Linked DNA regions of Homo sapiens: region 2 is linked to region 1. The links come from fine-mapping of genetic effects on gene expression. A gene starts in region 1. The other region holds a variant in brackets. All regions are shown on one strand. Distances are from middle to middle.

Region 1 (2,909 bases):
CGTTCAAACCTCGACTTTTCTCAAATAATAACTTTTTAAAAGCAAACTAATTTTAAGCAAATGACTGAATCTTTTGAAAAAGTCGACTAAGTTTTGGAGACTTTTACGGTTTTGCTTTCTTTTTCCTGCTGTATCCTTAAAGCCTGCAAGAATTCCTATCTAGGAATACTGGGGATTCTTTTACGAGATGGATTTGACAACTTGCTTTCAAAGCCCTGCCTAGGATTTCATTTGACTGAGCAAATAAAGCCCAGAACATCCCTAAGCAAAGGCAAACAAAGGTGCAAATGCGCGGAGATCCCAAATCCACCCCGCGTGTGTCCACAAAAAAGGGCGGAATCAGAGGCAGCAGCGCGAAGCTCCAGTTTCCACAGCATCCTTCCTTCTTGGCCTTACTTAGGCCGCTCCCTGCGACCCTTGGGATCAGGATCCCAAATCCTTGCCTCACCCACCACACCCCGCGCTTGGGCAGCTGGACTAGTCCTTCCCACGCAAGTCACTGGAAAAAGTCCTTGGACTAAGGGAGGCCACCCTAGATGGCTTTGTCTCCAAAATCCCAGAGGAAATGGAGGAAGGAAAAACCCTGTCAAGGAAAGGTGACAACCCAGCTTACAGTGCTTACCAAGCAGACGCTCTCAGTCAGCCCCTGCCACCGCTAACCGTTGGTTCGCGGGCACCCACAGGCAACGTCGCGGTGGCCCCTGGGGGTTGTAGTTTCTGTCGCAAACAAAACGCGCCGGCAGCATCGAAACTACATTCCCCACAAGTCAACGCGAAGACGTCCTACCGACTTAAATCTGGGGTTTGGAGTAATGAAGAGGCCGTCACTACTTTTAGGGTGATCTTAAATGTAGACTCAATTTCTTCCAGGAGTCCCTTCGCGCCCTCTTTCTTTGTCGTGCTTGTTTTATGTGTGACGAAGTCTCAGTGTACTTCTACGTCTTACTTTTTCCTTCCCCTTCTCCAGGACAGAGTCCAAACGTCCGGGAACGGAAACCGCCTCAGGGCGCAAGCTTAGCGCCTCCGGGGGCGCTTGGCCCAGTTCGCAGTCACGCATGCGTAGCAGCCGGCAGTGGCTGGCAGCCGCGCGCGGCGCACTTGGGGTCCGGAGGGTAGCCTGCCAGAGGGCGGGGCTTTTTCCTAAGGCTTTGCCTCGGCGGGTCGCGTCTGCCTGGGCGGGGAAGAAGGCGCTGGGGCCGGGGCGGCTCCCGGTTTGTGCCGGGCGGAGAAAGGGGAGGGGCTGGGGGTGAGGACCCCGTCTCCACTCCCTGCTCCCGCCCTCTGGGCTGATCCCCACCGATGGGGCTGGGCGAAGGGCGGGCTTTGCGCCTCGGGCCCCGCCGCCCCGCCAGCTCCGCGGCCCAGCCTGGCGCTCGAGGATTGCCAGGGCCGCCCTGTGCCCTCTGGCTCGGCGGTGGTGGGCGAGGGCTCAGGGATCGGAGAAGTAGCGTCTTCCCGGGGGTGCCGAATTGGCGGGGCTGGGGGACGCTTTTTTTCACCGCCGCCCGCCGAGACTACGGCTGCCCGAGACTGCCGCCCTCCGACAGCGCCCAAGCCTCCGGCCGCTGCGGCCAGTGGGCCAGGGTTCGGCGAGCCTTCCCTGCCGGCGCCGGCCGGCTGCTGAGGCGCTGGGAGGAGCTGCGGAGGGCGGGGACTGGTGTCGGAGAAGGGGCGGGGTGGGAACGCCGGAGAGAACCCGGTGGCTGCACAGACAAAAAAGCCCCGAATGGCTGGAGGGCGTTCAGCTGTTAACAGCCTTTTGGGGCAGAGCACGGATTTGACAGCTCCACAACGTGAGGATATCCACTGACCCCGCGAGACGGAGGAGAACGCTTCCCCGAAATTCTCTGCCCACCAAAGCCAGCGCTGCAAGGTTGCAACTTTCAAACTTTGTTTTTCCAGAAAGAAGACTGCCCTTTCGTGTACAAGGAGAGGGTGAGAGGGTGACCTAGCTTGTAGATCGGCTGAAGGCACCAGTGGTTCCAAATGTCACCCAGATGTGTGTTTTCATGACGATTTGATTTCTCTGATTTTATTTTTACATTTTTCATTTTAAAAATACAAAGCAATTTTTTTGGGGCATGCTGAAAGGTAACTGAAGACCGCAAAGGAAAAACTATTGTCATGGCTGAAGGAGAGAATGAAGTGAGATGGGATGGACTCTGCAGCAGAGATTCAACTACTAGGGAGACAGCATTGGAAAACATTAGGCAAACCATTTTGAGGAAAACCGAGTATCTTCGTTCGGTGAAAGAAACACCTCATCGTCCATCAGACGGGCTTTCAAATACCGAGTCTTCGGATGGGTTGAATAAGCTACTTGCTCATCTGCTTATGCTTTCTAAGAGGTGTCCCTTCAAAGATGTGAGAGAGAAAAGTGAGTTTATTCTGAAGAGCATCCAGGTAAGGAAGAGCATTTTAAATACAACTATGTCTCTACTACAGTTAAATTTTACTTGCCGTTATTCACGTTGTGTTTGTTTCTATTAGGTTGTTATGTAAACTTTTATTATGAGTTTACATCTTTAGAGTGTTCTGTAAGTAAACAAGTAGTGTTTTTCTAGAGTTTTAGGCAGAAACTGCTTTGCTCCTGGAAGAATATATGAAAACTACAGTTAATTCCAAGTAAATACTTGTTTTTCCTTATATTTCTTTTTACATGTTGTTGGAAAATGTAGCCAGTGTTTTTTTTTCACATTGTCACAGTGTTCTGAGTGTAAAGGCTCACATTTAAAAGCCTCTAAAATGATAAAGGATATTAAATGTTTCCTAGTCAGCCTGTTCAAGATAATTGGTGGAACAATTTTCTCTTATTTTTAAAAACAAAACAAACCAGGATGTGTTCTCTAAATGCAACCTCTCTTTTTTCAAGAAGAGAATTATATAAAATAATAAAAACCTATCTTAAA
Region 2 (2,909 bases), 420 kb after region 1:
TCATAAGTTGAAACCTTCACATTCACAAATCCATGAAGGTTATCAACTGTTTTCCTAGTTAGACAGAACTAGATGATTTGAGGAAAGTTTGCCCCACAAGCAAAAATAAAGTGAAACACCACTTTCCTCACTCTTTAAAAAGAAAGATAATTTTAGCCAAACTTTCAACCCCTAGAGCAAGCTGGGGACTAAATATGGAACACTTAGGAGAGATAAGGAATTGATATTAATGCAATCTGACAAGGAAGTCTCACATGGACTCCAGGAAGACAGGGTGTAAAACACAAGCTTGACTTGTGTAAAGGCTGCCTTGCACTGCCTCCCAGTAATTCCTGGGCTTGGTCAAGGCAGCAGGTGAACCAGTCTGGGAAGGCTGGTGACAAGGTCCTCCAGAGTCTTCGCCTCCAGGACACCTCAGAGCCTAGACCTGGAGTGGACTGCCCTTCCAGCCAGCCTTTGTGCTGTGCTGATAAAACCCAAGGGAGACACAGGGAGAGAGGTAGCCATCCTCATACTTCATAGCTGAGGGACAAAGGGCTGGGGGCCACCTGCTGGGAGGCACCAGCTTTTCTGTTGCTTAAATTTAGCGATTATTAATGGCTAAAATAAGTTTAAGAATGCCCTATCTTAAACTATCTGATCTATCCCTATCAGAGATAGGGACAGATAAATCCCTATCTCTGACTTTATGTTGAGGCAGGGATTATGTTAACCAATATTTTTCACATATCCAGAGTCGACTATGAATACTAATGTGGCAGAAATATGACAGGTATTGATTTACTGTCAATAGCAAAGTTGCAGAGATTTAGTATTTTCTTAAGATTCTCAGATTTGCAAACCACGTATAATAGTATGTACACTTTTAGATTATGTTCTTTTTAAAGGCCCAGTTTTTAGGCAAAAAGCCTTTAAAGGGTGTCTGGATCCTCTCTGAATTCATGGTTATTTAACTTTATTATAATATCCAAAACCCTTAGCTGGTAAAGGCCTGTGGGATCAGGTTCCACTGTCCTCATCCATGCTTTAAGGCCCACTACTGCTTCTGGGAACAAACCCTCCGCTTGTCCGATGGGTCAGGTTCAAAGACACTTTGCCTGGACGGCTCTTCTTACCACCCAGCAAATCACCTACATGTTCAGATGGCTCCTGCAGCCCCACCTTCCCTACGCTATCCTTGACTCAATTCTTAAGTCACTCACCTAGTATCTAATCATAATGTGCCTGAAATGGCAACTTTTTCAGGGACTTTGAGCTCCTAACATGTTGAACTCCTTGAAAGCTAAGCAAAGTCTTCAAATCAAATCAAACACTTATGGAGCACCTACTACTTTAAGAGCACTGTCTGGTATCTTCCCTCGTGCAGCACATATTCCAGTGAAAGAAACAACAGTTTTCTTGATGTCCCAAGGAACCTGGTAAGTTGAAAGTACTAAATGGATGCACTATAAATGTTGGCTGAATCAATCAAAGAACCATCCTCCTGGAAGAACCCTCTCTTCCTCTTTGCCAACTCAAACACTCAGCATCCTTTCATTGCAACTGCTTCCATGACCTACTC[A/G]TATTTGCCAAGAGTTAGTCTGAGTCCAGGCAGAACCTACTGCCTGGTGGGATATGACCTAGGATTTGCAGTACTTTATGTGAAAAGGATGGTTTCCAATCATTCAATTTCTAAAACTCCTATTTCTTACAGATGAAATCAATACAAGGCACGATTTTAACATTCAACTAATTCTCAAGTATTTAATAAAAGGTTTATCTTCTCCTATCCTTTCTGTACATCCCACCATAGATATCCTTACCACCAGCCCCCAAATTAAGAGTCTTGCTACTCTAAGTTTCAAGCTGCTGTCAATAAAGTGATTCACCTTTTAAAAACAATAGGGAATTGTAGTACAGGAGGAAATGTTCAGTCATCAAACATGACCTGCATATCACAATGTTTATGTTTGCTGGGTGTGACCCTATCCTGTATGACTCTTCACTGCATTTACTGGGGTGTGTGTATGTGGGGGGCGGGGCAGGGATGAATGATAGGAGTGTGCAGGCTGGGATGCCCTAGATCCCTGGAGGGTGGGTGGAAATGCAGGTGTAATTGCCAGTCCATCTCAGGGTTTAGCTACCAAATACTGAAGGGAGGATCTCTAAAGCGCTCTTTTCCTGCTTTAGATACACAGGATTCTGAGAGACAATCTAATTTTTCCAAGTGATTCTGAAACTGAAAACACAGAATCAGCTAGTTGAGTTCTACAAATAGTCCAAACCACCTGTAAGGTATGACCAGGACACACAGGTGACACAGATGGTGGCCATGTAACAACCATCACACCAGTGCCACAGAGGAACTGAGAGGAACTCCAGGGTGGCTCCACAACTGAGGGAGACAAAGGAGTGCCCTGGCCAGGTGTGCAGATTCCGGTAGTGAGGGGAATCTGCGTGTGTGGCCCCGGTGGCCCTCTTCTTACAGCTTGGCCTGCACCTGCACCTTGGTGTAAGTGCCGGCTGGGGCTGCCTCCCATGGGGCACCCCACTCCAGCCAGCAGGGCAGTCTGAGTAGAACCTGACGAGTGGGGCAGGGAGTGCTTTGGCTTTTGTTACTCGGTGGGCAGGCAGCATTTTCAGGTAAACATTAGGGTCACCTTCCAACAGGTCTATCAGTCAAGACACTTTCTGATTACTTATAACTACGTTGGGCGGTATTGCTGTCTGATCTTTTTTGAACATACAAATGACCAATGAAAGCCCCAATTAATTACAGTGGCATATACAGAAATGAAGGCCTACTGGAAATTAACTGAAAATTTCGACCTCAGAATTCTTGGACTTCTACCTCTGGCCTTCTCTTCTTAGTCACTGATTTCCCCTGAAGAATCAAGTCAAACACTCCACACAAACAGAAACACATTTAA

The links. PIP is the estimated chance that this variant, and not a neighbour inherited with it, causes the effect.
Region 2: its variant is the best candidate, but not a certain one, in a credible set for the expression of SESN1 in ileum (GTEx, PIP 0.61).

What each region holds. Positions count from the first base shown.
Region 1 is chr6:109,093,289-109,096,197 of GRCh38, reverse strand. SESN1 (sestrin 1) reads left to right here and starts at 1,352. Exons shown (of 10, transcript NM_014454.3): 1 at 1,352-2,403. The coding sequence starts at 2,125. It overlaps CEP57L1 (centrosomal protein 57 like 1), which reads right to left and starts at 691. Exons shown (of 11, transcript NM_001271852.3): 1 at 623-691. RefSeq lists enhancers at 705-964, 1,835-1,984 and a silencer at 1,025-1,724.
Region 2 is chr6:108,672,865-108,675,773 of GRCh38, reverse strand. The region is part of intron 2 of FOXO3 (forkhead box O3); the gene reads right to left. Among named protein-coding and RNA genes, the nearest start is that of LINC00222, 77 kb to the left of the region's middle. RefSeq lists a silencer at 1,834-2,128. The variant A/G (reference allele first, on the strand shown) is at 1,562.